Homo sapiens: one gene and its partner. The protein of the gene in region 1 purifies or fractionates together with the protein of each later gene. This does not show direct contact. Each region holds a gene or a part of one and is shown on either strand. Other genes may lie near its edges. The genes, in order: U2AF1 and SCAF11.

What was found.
Region 2: the proteins of U2AF1 (region 1) and SCAF11 purify together in Homo sapiens (affinity purification with mass spectrometry, with the first as the bait; 2 studies listed by BioGRID). This does not show direct contact.

Annotation. Positions count from the first base shown.
Region 1 is NC_000021.9:43,092,407-43,097,812, reverse strand, and holds the end of U2AF1 (splicing factor U2AF 35 kDa subunit), read left to right. Parts: intron 1-2,069; coding exon 2,070-2,119; intron 2,120-2,276; coding exon 2,277-2,375; intron 2,376-3,024; coding exon 3,025-3,158; intron 3,159-3,249; coding exon 3,250-3,342; intron 3,343-4,563; coding exon 4,564-4,711; 3' UTR 4,712-4,857; downstream 4,858-5,406. UniProt on the Homo sapiens protein: Plays a critical role in both constitutive and enhancer-dependent splicing by mediating protein-protein interactions and protein-RNA interactions required for accurate 3'-splice site selection. Recruits U2 snRNP to the branch point.
Region 2 is NC_000012.12:45,931,421-45,938,711, reverse strand, and holds part of SCAF11 (protein SCAF11), read left to right. Parts: intron 1-4,206; coding exon 4,207-4,265; intron 4,266-4,426; coding exon 4,427-4,536; intron 4,537-5,479; coding exon 5,480-5,581; intron 5,582-7,099; coding exon 7,100-7,206; intron 7,207-7,291. UniProt on the Homo sapiens protein: Plays a role in pre-mRNA alternative splicing by regulating spliceosome assembly.

The DNA of each region.
Region 1 (5,406 bases):
TGGCTCACGCCTGTAATCCCAGCACTTTGGAAAGCCGAGGCAAGTGGATCACGAGGTCGAGAGATTGAGACCATCCTGGCCAACATGGTGGAACCCCGTCTCTACTAAAACTACAAAAATTAGCCAAGATCACGCCATTGCACTCCAGCCTGGAGACAGTGAGACGCCGTCTCAAAAAAAAAAAAAAAAAAGATAAAAAGAGTTTTGAGCAAGCTCAAAGACCCGTGTGCCAGCAGTCAGATGCCCACGTTGGGTGCACAGGCTAAGGCAGCCGGCCCAATCTGGAAACCAGTCAGGCTTTTGCCAGCCCCTAATCTAGCTGATTGGAACATGTTTGTTGATACACCAGCTCTGTGATTTCTCAGGTTTAGAGAACTCTAGAATTTGATAGAGTGGGCCGGGGGCAGTGGCTCATGCCTGTAATCTCAGCACTTTGGGAGGCTGAGGTAAGCAGATCACGTGAGGTCAGGAGGTTGAGACCAGCCTGGCCAACATGGTGAAACCCCGTCTCTACTAAAAATACAAAAATTAGCCAGGCATGGTGGTGCGCGCCTGTAGTCCCACCTACTTGGGAGGCTGAGGAAGGAGAATTGCTTGAACCTAGGAAGTGGAGGTTGCAGTGAGCCAAGATCACGCCACTGCACTCCAGCCTGGAGTGGACAGAGACTCCATCTCAAAAGAAAAAAAAATTAATTAAATTTGATAGAATGATGATGGGGATAGAGTGTAAATTTGCCAAATTTACCCACGCAACAGACATGATTTTACCTAATACATGTGAATTATGAAGAATAAACTGATGAAAATAGTTTGGGAATATAAAACTTAAGAATACTTGCGCCGGGCACGGCGGCTCACACCTGTAATCCCAGCACTTTGGGAGGCCGAGGCAGGTGGATCACGAGGTCAGGAGTTCAAGACTAGCCTGGCCAAGATGGTGAAACCCCATCTCTATTAAAAATACAAAAATTAGCCGGGCGTGGTTGTGGGCGCCTGTAATCCCAGCTACTCAGGAGGCTGAGGCAGAGAATCGCATGAGCCCAGGAAGCGGAGGTTGCAGTGAGCCGAGATTGCGCCACCGCACTCCAGCCTGGGCGACAGAGTGAGACTCCGTCTCAAAAAAAAGAAAAAAAAAAGAATGCTTTCATCAGCAAAACATTGTAACATTCCCTTTACTTGAGGGCGTCCACAATACCGTAAGGTTGCGTGAACTGTCCTACTGAATCTTCATGGTTGCTTGGATTTTAATCACATCAGAAGAATTTGAGAGCATACCATGGCTGGCAGTCCATAAAAGACTAGTTAGGAACATCAGCTTTTAATCATCGACCCTGCTTTCAGGTTTCATTTTAAACTTATAGAAGAGGGGAAGACATCAGTGTGCTTATTTGGCCTTTACTCTAAATCTTAAAAGGAAGAAAATTTTAATATTTCTTAGTTTGAGCCCAGGTGCGGTGTCTCACGCCTGTAATCACAGCACTTTGGGAGGCCAAGGCAGGCGGATCACTTGAGGTCAGGAGTTCAAGACCAGCCTGCCAACGTGGTGAAACCCTGTCTGTACTAAAAATTAAAAAAAAAAAAAAAAATTAGCCGGGCGTGGTGGCAGTCGCCTGTAGTCCCAGCAACTCCAGAGGCTGAGACAGGAGAATCGCTTGAACCCCAGAGGTGGAGGTTGCAGTGAGCTGAGATGGTGCCACTGCACTCCAGCCTGGGCGACAGAGCCAGACTGCATCTTGTGGGTGTAAAAAAAAAATTTGTAGTTTGAGAGTCAACTTTTTCCTCACAGTTTCTGAAAATGTGGCCCTTTTGATGCTGATTAAAGCTGGTTGTGATTTTAACACCTTAGTAGCCAGAATCGAGACTGTCATGGGGACATTTAAAATCTCACCACACTTGACACCATTCACAAGTAGCCATGTGGCTCAGTCTCCTGAGTGCTCCTGCAGAGTGCAGCTCTGCCAGGCTTTTCTCTAGATAATCTCGTGTGTGTTACTGTAGCAGTTTGAGTTTAAACACAAGAGTTCACTCGGTTAACATGTTCTAACCAGCAAGATTTCTGTTGTTTGCAGGTGCCGTGAGCGATGTGGAGATGCAGGAACACTATGATGAGTTTTTTGAGGTGAGAGAACTGAACTCTGTGACTGATAGACCTGTTGATCTTCTGTATCTGTTTGGAAGGATTTAAAATGTTTCTCTGCTAATAAACATACATGAGTTATATCTAATGACACTTTGTAATGTATAACGAGTCTTAAACCACTGTGGTCTCCCTTCAGGAGGTTTTTACAGAAATGGAGGAGAAGTATGGGGAAGTAGAGGAGATGAACGTCTGTGACAACCTGGGAGACCACCTGGTGGGGAACGTGTACGTCAAGGTAGGAGCCAGGGCGAGACGGCGGCGTGGCCGCTTAGTGTGCCAGGGCCAAGGCCAACAGGCGAAAGCGAGACAGTGGTGCAGCCGCTTAGTGTGCCGGGGCCAAGGCCGACAGAGGATGGGGTGCCTGTCGCCATGCACCTTGAGATCCTGGATGCTCAGGCGCACAGCAGGGCTCAGGTGCACTGGCTCGGCGCCTACCAGCTGCGTCATATGTGGCGGTGGCCAGCCCACACGTGCGCCCAGCCAGCAGAACTGAAGGACGGACCGTACACCACAGCCATCGTTATTTCAGTGTAGAATATTTAGTACCTGTTGGTTTAGAAGCTGTGTGGACTAAGGAAAAGTTAGGTTTACTCACATGTTTGGTTTCTTTTTTCTTTTTTAGTGAATAAAACTTTATTTGCCTACACAGCCATATTTGCTCCTTTAACCAGTTGAATTTGAAAAATGAAGGCAACATTTGGCAAAATCTTGGACTATCTTGAAGTTAATCTCATTGAAAATAAAGGATTTTTCAATTATCCTGTAATACTATTCCACCTTACTATACCTGAGTGTGTATATCTCTCTCTGATATACTTGGATTGGTAATTGAGAAAGTCTTATTAAAGCGTGGATGGCAAGCACTTCTGTTTTTGTCTTTTCAGTTTCGCCGTGAGGAAGATGCGGAAAAGGCTGTGATTGACTTGAATAACCGTTGGTTTAATGGACAGCCGATCCACGCCGAGCTGTCACCCGTGACGGACTTCAGAGAAGCCTGCTGCCGTCAGTATGAGATGGGGTGAGTGAGGAGTGGCCAGTGACGTGACTGAGCACAGTTCGGGGCCGTGTGCACACGAGGTAGTAAATGTCTCCTTCCAACCCACCCACAGAGAATGCACACGAGGCGGCTTCTGCAACTTCATGCATTTGAAGCCCATTTCCAGAGAGCTGCGGCGGGAGCTGTATGGCCGCCGTCGCAAGAAGTGAGTATTCCTGTGCCCGTTGTTAAGCTCAGTGGCTTCTTTCTCCCCTCACAACCCTCCCCCTTCCAAAAAAAAAATTTTGGCATAGGTGTCGTTTCTGTTTTTTAAAAGGCAGTGCTTAGAACATAGTACATATTTTTAAATATCCAAATGTCCTCTTTGGAGAAGAATATTCACCTGCACACAGGTAACTTCATTATCCAACTTCTCAAGTAGAGATCAGATCTTAGTAATCAAGCAAGAGGGCGGTTAGCTGGGCAGCCGCGGACATGAGGCTCGTGGTGAAAGTGGGCATGCAGTTTATTCTCCCAGATATTACGAAGAAGAAGAATAGATGTTGTAACCTCCTTTAGATCAGGGATGGCTTCCCTGGGACACATTGGAAGAAGAATTGTCTTGGGTCACAAATAAAATACACTAATGATAGCTGATAACTTTTTTTTTAATTGCAAAAAAAATCTCATAATGTTTTAAGCAAGTTGATGAATTTGTGTTGGGCTGCAGGTTGGACAAGCTTTTGCTTTACATATTTCACATGTCCACTGGGGTTTCTTTTGGTTTTGCTTGTTGGTTTTAGGGCATTTCATTATGTCTTGGGATCGCTGGCATCCTCCCTTCGGGACACTGGCAGAATCAGGCCCAGCGGTCACATCTCTCTGATCCTACATTTAAATGTACGACAGGTCACAGAGCAGAGAAAATCAAGACGTCAGAATCGAACCGATTGAGTTCTGAGTCTGGAGAGGTTCTCATCCCTCTTCTGTTAAACATGGACTAGTAAATAGATGGGTGGCGATTGTTTTATTGTCAGCATTCAAGAAGCATAAGAGAAAAACAGGCCTGCTCTCCCCAGCCCAAAAACCTGATGGACACAGTAGCTATGAGCGCCTGAAGCGTGGGGTCAGTGAGGGTTGAAGATGGTATGTGTCCAGCTCATTTTGATTATGATTTCCTGTGACCATTTGAGTTGGTTCTAGAAGAAGACAGAAGATGCAAGGTATTACACCTGTTCACTTCTAAGTTGCACATTTTTTTCTCCTGAAACTTTTCACACCTGAAATCAGGGTGTGTCTCAGTCACGGCGTGCAGTCTCTTCAGCAGTGTTTTTCCTTATCAGTGCCGTTGGCTTGAGGAGCTGCGCGTGTTGAGAGAGTGGGTGTGGTTCTGTGCTGCGTGCCGTGGTTTGGATGGCACGGTTTTCTTTATTTTCCTTGGTTGCAGGCATAGATCAAGATCCCGATCCCGGGAGCGTCGTTCTCGGTCTAGAGACCGTGGTCGTGGCGGTGGCGGTGGCGGTGGTGGAGGTGGCGGCGGACGGGAGCGTGACAGGAGGCGGTCGAGAGATCGTGAAAGATCTGGGCGATTCTGAGCCATGCCATTTTTACCTTATGTCTGCTAGAAAGTGTTGTAGTTGATTGACCAAACCAGTTCATAAGGGGAATTTTTTTTAAAAAACAACAAAAAAAAAAACATACAAAGATGGGTTTCTGAATAAAATTTGTAGTGATAACAGTATTCTTGGTGTAACTTATTTCTTGTGGAAGTTCTTTAAATTTCTTTTTCTTTATAAATCTGCTAGTCATCTTGGAGGTAAAGATTAATATCCATCCACCACTTTGAGTATAAATGAAATAATATTTTTTATCTTAGGGCATGAAATAAAACACATACCAGGTGAGATCTACATGCTAAATAATCCGGAATTTCTCGAGGCTGTCATGGAAAGCCTTTTGGGGTTTCTTTTCTAACTGGTTAGTGAAGAAGTGCTTAGCTATAATCAGTAGACACGCTGTAGACTGCACTGATGTTGGGAAGAAGGCTGATCTGTGGTGAGACACAGTGGGTGGGCCCGACCCATGTTACCTTCTCGTTCCTGCGAGTTTGTGTCAAGAACCCCATGTGTTCGTGGGAGGGAGCGTGGATGCTCACACGGCACACTGAGGGCCAGTAGTCCGTGTCCGTGTTTCCTTATGCCAATGGCTGTGGGAGACACAGAAGCCTGCGGTGCAGATCCGCCTTTAGACACTCTGGTATTACTTTCCCCAAGCTACTCGGGTGGCGCGT
Region 2 (7,291 bases), on another chromosome or scaffold:
ACAAAAGGATGTTTTCATGAAACATCCTTTCGGATTAGTGTTTCATGAAACATGTTTAGGGATATGCTGAATTAACATAAATAAAACAAGGTTCTAGTTAAGCATAGCAGATTGAGTACTTGTTTAATGCTGTGATCCCTCTCATCCCAAATCTCTACTAAAATGACAATAAAGGAATGAAAGAAAAGTGTGTTTTTTGTTTGTTTGTTTGTTTGTTTTTTTGAGATGCAGTCTCGCTCTTGTCACCCAGGCTGGAGTACAGTGACACAATCTCAGCTTACTGCAACCTCCGCCTCCCAGGTTCAAGTGATTCTACTGCCTTAGCCTCCTGAGTAGCTGGGATTACAGGTGCCCGCCATCATGCCCGGCTAATTTTGGTATTTTTAGTAGAGCAGGGTTTCACCATGTTGGCCAGGCTGGTCTCGAACTCCTGACCTCAGGTGATCCGCCAACCTCGGCCTCCCAGAGTGCTGGGATTACAGTTGTGAGCCACTGTGCCTGGCCAGAAAGAAGAGTTTTAAGCCACAAAGTTTAAGCCACAAAGACAAGAAAGCTGGAGAGAGGGGGACAGCACATAAGTGTCCACAAAATAGAAAGTAAAACAGTATGAGGGGGATGGTAAATTGTCTTAGCAGAAAGCTGATACATAGACATTTCATGGGAAGAATGGAGTTAAGAATCTCAAGACAGTACACATACCATCAAACCTTAGCAAGTTGAGTTTGGAGGCCTCCATTATCTGTGAAGGCAGAGATATGGGGTGGTTTTGGAAAACAGAATTGGTTAAAAATCTTTAGATCCTGAAGATTCCTGGCTGTGGGTAGAGGAAGGGGAGTACCCAATGAAAGACTGGAGATTTACACTCTAAAATGAGTATTTGAACCAGATTTAAACTTTAGCATAAATGATGGTACAGGAAACAACAGAGAGGGAAATTAAGTCAAATGATGAGGCTTCTAGTCCTCTACCTAAGAGCATTTTTCAAAGCACTGGCAGTCTTGATTATTATAATTTTCCAAAGTAGGAAATAAGGGACATCTTTTGGAAAACTGACTTGCCCAAAAGAAAAGACTTAAAGATAATGTCATTTGAGAGTCTCCCAATGAAGTAACCAGATGTCTGCTTGATCACCCTACAGTGAAACACATTAGCTGAAAGGCTCTGACCACCCATCTACACCATTTTCAATCAATATTTTAGTGTCCAGCAAACAATCAAGGATCTCCAGATGTTTGAGGAAAATCAACATAATAGAGATCAAAACAAAGACAAAAGCAACCTGATGGGACAGACCCAATGCTGAAAAATAGGGAATAACTTTAAAAAACTTAATATCCTCAAAGCCTGAAAGAAGGGATATTTTATCAATGATACAAGAAAAATAATATTTAAGAAAAAGCTTTCAGAAGTTAAAAATATTACAGCAAAAATACAAAAATTCAACAGGAGTAGAAGATAAGTTCTTAAGTCTCAAAGTAGGACTAAAAAAGAGATGATAGGATATTCATTTAAGAGATTCAATATCGAATAATAAAATTTCAGGAAGGAAAAATGCAAAAATTTATTTTTAAAAAAGTAATACAAAGGAAATTTTTTCCGTAATAGTAGAGCACAGGTGTCCAGATATGAAGAAATAATATAATACTTAGTAAATGAAAAAAAAATCATACCAAATACTTCATAAAGTTCTAGAAGTCTGAGGATGACAAGAGAGAGAGTAAAAACAGACCACATAGAGGATTGGGGTTACAGAGTGTCATCAACAATAGTTGGAGTAGTGAAGCAATGCCTTGAAAACTCTAGGGAAAATAATTACTAACCTAGACAATTCTATAACCTATCAAACTATCCATCGTGCACTAACTCAGAATTCCCACCCTTTTCCACTTCTGCTGGAGGATGTATGTATATACTTCACTAAATGAGATAGTAAATGGAAGAACAATGTGAGATTCAGAAAATGAGTTCCAACTCAGGAAAAGATTAAACAGGACAAAGAGGATTATTGGGATAATGACAAAGGACAATCCCAAAATGACTATTGAACAGCAGCTTTGAGAGTTACCAGTTCATATTGGACCAGGACAAAGAAAGAGTTTTGCCAGGAGAGTGGGGAACAAACCTTATGGATGAGTTGTTGTGTTTGAGTGTATTAAACTCAGATTTATACTTTTGTTGTAGTTAGCTAAATTAATGATGGATAATAAGGAAGAAAAGGAAAAGAGAAAACAAAGACATTATTAACCCTAGGAAAATACCTGAATGAAGCTGGCTGGGCGTGGTGGCTCATGCCTGTGATCCCAGCACTTTGGGAGGCCGAAGTGGGTGGATCACCTGAGGTCAGGAGTTCAAGACCAGCCTCACCAATATGGTGAAACCCCATCTCTACTAAAAATACCAAAATTAGCCGGGCGTGGTGGTGTGCGCCTGTAGTCCCAGCTGCTCAGGAGGCCGAGACAGGAGAATTGCTTGAACCTGGGAGGCAGAGGTTGCAGTCAGCCGAGATTGTGGCACTGCACTCCAGCCTGGCCAACAAAGCGAGATTCTGTTTCAAAAAAAAAAAACAAAAAAAACCACACATAGAGTAGTATAAGGGTGTTATTTAGTAATAAGTAAATGTTAGAAGAAACAGCCAAAGGATTTGATGAGTGCTTTGGGGAAGCAGAAATCAAGAGTGGGTATTTCCATAATTTTTCTTTATAAGTTTGGAAGTACTGTTTGACATCTTAAAGTATGTACATGCATTACTTTGATAAAAATTAAATGAAAAGGCGTATCACTGCCCACCAAAAACAGACAAGTAGGGTGGATTTGTGAAACGATCTTCAGGAAACCACAATTTAGACAAATTCACCAGTATCGAATACTTTAGAGATTGCCATTGAAGCTGTTGAGTAATTACCTGAGAATTACCCAGAAATATGTGAAACAGCTTTTGAACTGGATTTTCACATGTAGCATTGCTCAGAGAAAACTAACAGTTCTTTCAGTAGAGAGCATTTTATCTAATGATGGCTTTCTGAGATAGGTTTCCAAATGAAAGAATGCTATGTAAACACTACATACTCGTTAAGTGTTGAGTGAATGCAACCTGAAACAAAACAACTCAGCATCCTTAGGGCATAAAAGACACTATGTAGGTATAGCACAGCAATTCTATGTCTAGCTGAAGGAACATGGTTATTTCTAAGAGTGTTATCTGTGTACCTACCACACATTTTTACTTCTTGCCTCTTAAGCCATTTTAAAAAATCAGCGTATCATCTTTTAGATACAGATTTTCAAAGGGGTAAGGCAGTAAGTTCCGGAACTCAGCCTGTTCGTCTTCCACTAACATTGAAATTACATTTGTTACAGTAGTTCTGAGAGGGACTTGTGCAAAACCAAACAGCTGTTGTATAATAACTAAAAAGGAAATTAGTATGCTATTAAGTAGAAAGTAGGCTATTACCAACTGAACTAACAGAAGTAAACCAAAATACATATGATCTTGCAGTGCAGGAAACAAGCCTCCTAGTTAGTGTGATTTATTTTGAACAATGTCAATAGGCCCTTTGTGAGGCAAGCAAGGGGGAAAATTAAAAGGCAGTTGTCATATGCACTGTGGACAAGTCATAAGCAATGCAGCCACCAACGTTGTAACAGAAAGCTGTTTCAGTCAGCACATCTACTTTTCCATCTTAGTATAAAATTGGAAGGAAAGAACATACCTGAAGTGGGTGCCAGTGGCTAAATGGTAATTTATGGTTAACAAGAGCTGATGGCCCCAGGCCACCTAGTCAGCCCCTGCTTGAGATAGCTACCTGTTTTCTAGATGATAGCTGGAAAAGAAATGTTAAGTGTATTATTGATATTAAATAGCTTGACTTCTTGTGTATACCTTTTGTTACAAGATACTTTAAGTTTGCATAAGGTAGCAGAAAATGTTGATTAGAATTTTAACTCATATGTTGTAAACATAGCAGGTTTGACATACTTCACCCAGTTTCTGTATTGTGGCCTTTTATATTTTACTTGTAGTAATAGCTTAACAAGGTAAGATGAAATCAGCATTTGGGAAAATTGTGTAAAAAATTGTGTATTATTTGAAATACAGCTTTTCTACGTATTTCAACCCTTGCCAATGTGCTGGTATCGATGCTGGTTTACAGCCTTTTTAATAAAAATTAATACAAGGTAACCAAGTCCTTTTATGTCTTTGTACAGGAAACTCTTTATACAGTGAAACAGGAGGAAAGAAAAATGCAGCAATAAAGATAAATAAGGTTTGTTGAAACCAAGAAAAATCTTTTTCTTAGATGATAACACTTTAGGGTTATTTAGTCCATAAATAACCAGTGCTTCAGGTGTATCAAAATATTTAAGTATAACTATTATTTACCTGTTATTTATTTGCTGTTTCACTAACTACTTTTTACTTTTCTAGCCTCAGAGATCAAATTGGAGTACAAATCAGTGCTTCAGAAATTTTTTCTCCAATATGTTTTCTTCTGTTAGCCACTCTGGAGAATCTTCCTTTACCTATAGAGCTTATTGGTTAGTATTTTCTACTTTTAATTTATGCTGTTTATACTTGATGTTTAATAATTATTAACTTTTGCTAGAAATTTAAACTCTGGGCCCAATAAAAACTGAAAGGCCCACCTGGTTGTTTTGCTTTAGTTTTTTTTTGGGCGGGGGGGAAGGTAAACTAGCTCTAGCAAAGAGAAAACCTGTTAATTTTGGGAGCTTCTCTATTGTGCAGTGATTGCCTATGCCAGTGTGCTTTGTTTTCATTAATAAGTTGTTCTATATAAGCTGTTTATATGATTGAGAAGTAGCTTATTTATTAGCTTGTGGGGATGTTACCTAAAGAAGAACCCTTTTACAGCTGATCCATTCATCTTTGAATCCTAGTGACTGGCATGTAGATACTAAGTTGATATTTATGGAATTTGAAGATTAAATTGAGGTTTTAAAATCACGTACAGTTAGTTGAGCCAGCAGCACAGAATACGATTGTGTGATTTAATTTTAGAACTTGGCAAGGTACCAAGAAAAAAATTATGTCTAAGTAGGCTTTTGAAAAGCTGAACTATACCCATTTTTGGTTGCAGTCATCTTACCCTACTTTATTTTCTTCTTTTGTCTTAGGCTTAGTTTCAAGTAGGAAACTATTGCACCTAGAATTTCTTCCTTTCAATAATGAGGATATTACTCTGACTTGACTTTATTTAAAAAATTCTGTCACTTAAGATAGAAATTCAAGGGTTATTTTTAACAATCATATAAATACAACTCTGATTTGCAATATAAAAATTGTACTTATTTTAGGAATGAGTTTATTTTGAAAGTGTTTAAATAGAAAAGAGCTCACATGCTTGTAAGTGTGATTCATAATGCCAGGTACAAAAACGACTGCTATTCTTTGTACAACCTAATTGTTTTTTTGAACCTAAAATTGTGAGATTCTGATGAAGGTCTAAAATTTATCTTTTAGTACAGAATTTATAGAAGCCAGTGAAATCAGTGCATTGATTAGGCAGAAGAGACATGAACTGGAATTGTCATGGTTTCCTGATACATTACCTGGAATTGGAAGGTAAAAATAAAAAATTATTTACTCAGGTGTTTACATGCTAACATGAACAAGATAGCATTAGTACTTAAGTACAAGGGTACCTTATTCAATTGTTATTTTCCTAAGGAAGTTTTGTGCAAATTAAACTTTGGTGTTTCAAATGCCCAATAAAGATTGCTATATAAAGGACCCCTTAGAAAGTAAAGAATCCTTAATTTATCTGTTTAACAAGTATAGCTGTGTATATGCTAGATTTATTTAAAAGGGAGAGAACCCGAATATTAAGATTTATTGTTAGTAATACATCTGTCATCATTCCTCTACTCTTCTCCCATTCCAGTCTTACCTGCGTGCTGTCCGCTGAATCACGCTTTTACCATATTCCTCTCCTCAAAAATGTTTTTCTAAATAACTATTTGATCAAGTGCCTACTCTACCCTGACACTCATGACTTTCTGTAATCTAGTTTTTTATTTCTTAGTTTATTCTTGAAGCTACTAAGATGGTGCTAGATAAATAATATATACTTAAATCAAGCTCCTAAGTAAAGATTAGGGTCGCTGCCTGAGTTTTATATTAATTCCTATAACATATTATGACTTTATTTTATATGTCACTATAATATAGTTCTGTATAGGGCATTCACCCTCTAAGAATGATGGCAGAACATAATAGAAGTCAGATGAAGAATTCCAGATGTATGTACTATGAAACCCTTCCTTATAGTTACATATTTTTATACATGTACAAGTTACATTTTTTTTCCCATGCTTCTCCTACTCCAGAATCTTACCTTATATTGAATCAGATAGTCTTTTGTTAGGAGACCTAAATGAATAAGAAAAAGAAAGCCAAGAAGTGGTTTGGGTTTGAATGGAGAAAATTTGAAGGAGGGGGTCTTAACAGGTCTCTAGGGACACTGAGAACTTTGAAGAGCCATCACCAGGTCGAGGAATTTTAGAATATAACATAGTGGTATAAATCAGTTCCTTGGTTGCCTGGAAAGGAGGGAGAAGGATACAAAGGAGTGTGAGGACACTTTCTAGGGGGGCAGAAATGTTCTCTTTCTTGATTGGGGTGGTGGTTAACACAGACATATATATATATATATGCACACACTTTGGTAAAAAGTTAGCAAATGTACGCTTAAAGTCTGCATTTTATGTTGAATTACACCTCAAAGTTGATTTTATTTTTTTAGAGTAGTGAAGAACATGATGAAAGCTGGAAAAATTCTTGACAAAATACTACATAAATTATTTCAAAGAGAAACATCTGTGTTAAGTTGCTTTCATCTTTTCTTTGCCATGAATTTATCAGAAAAACATACTTTTAAAGGTTTTTTTCTGAATTTTAGCCAATTGGTAGCTATCTTTAGACAAGGAGTAACCTTGAATTTACATTTTTAGCTATTTGGGCAAAAAACATTTAAGCACTGTATTTTAATATTGCTAACCTGATTTAGAGAATTAATACTTTTAAATTGGTGGTTTAATTTTTTAAACCATTTAAACAAAAATGTCTTTATTATGTTTTCAGAATTGGTTTTATACCCTGGAATGTTGAAACAGAAGTCCTTCCTCTCATTTCTTCTGTGTTGCCAAGAACTATTTTTCCAACAAGTACCATATCTTTCGAACATTTTGGTAAAGTTTGTGAAATCATTTTCTATTTTAAAAATTATTATTATTAGTTTCTTCCAGTTTCATAAAAATGTGTGTTTGATGACTT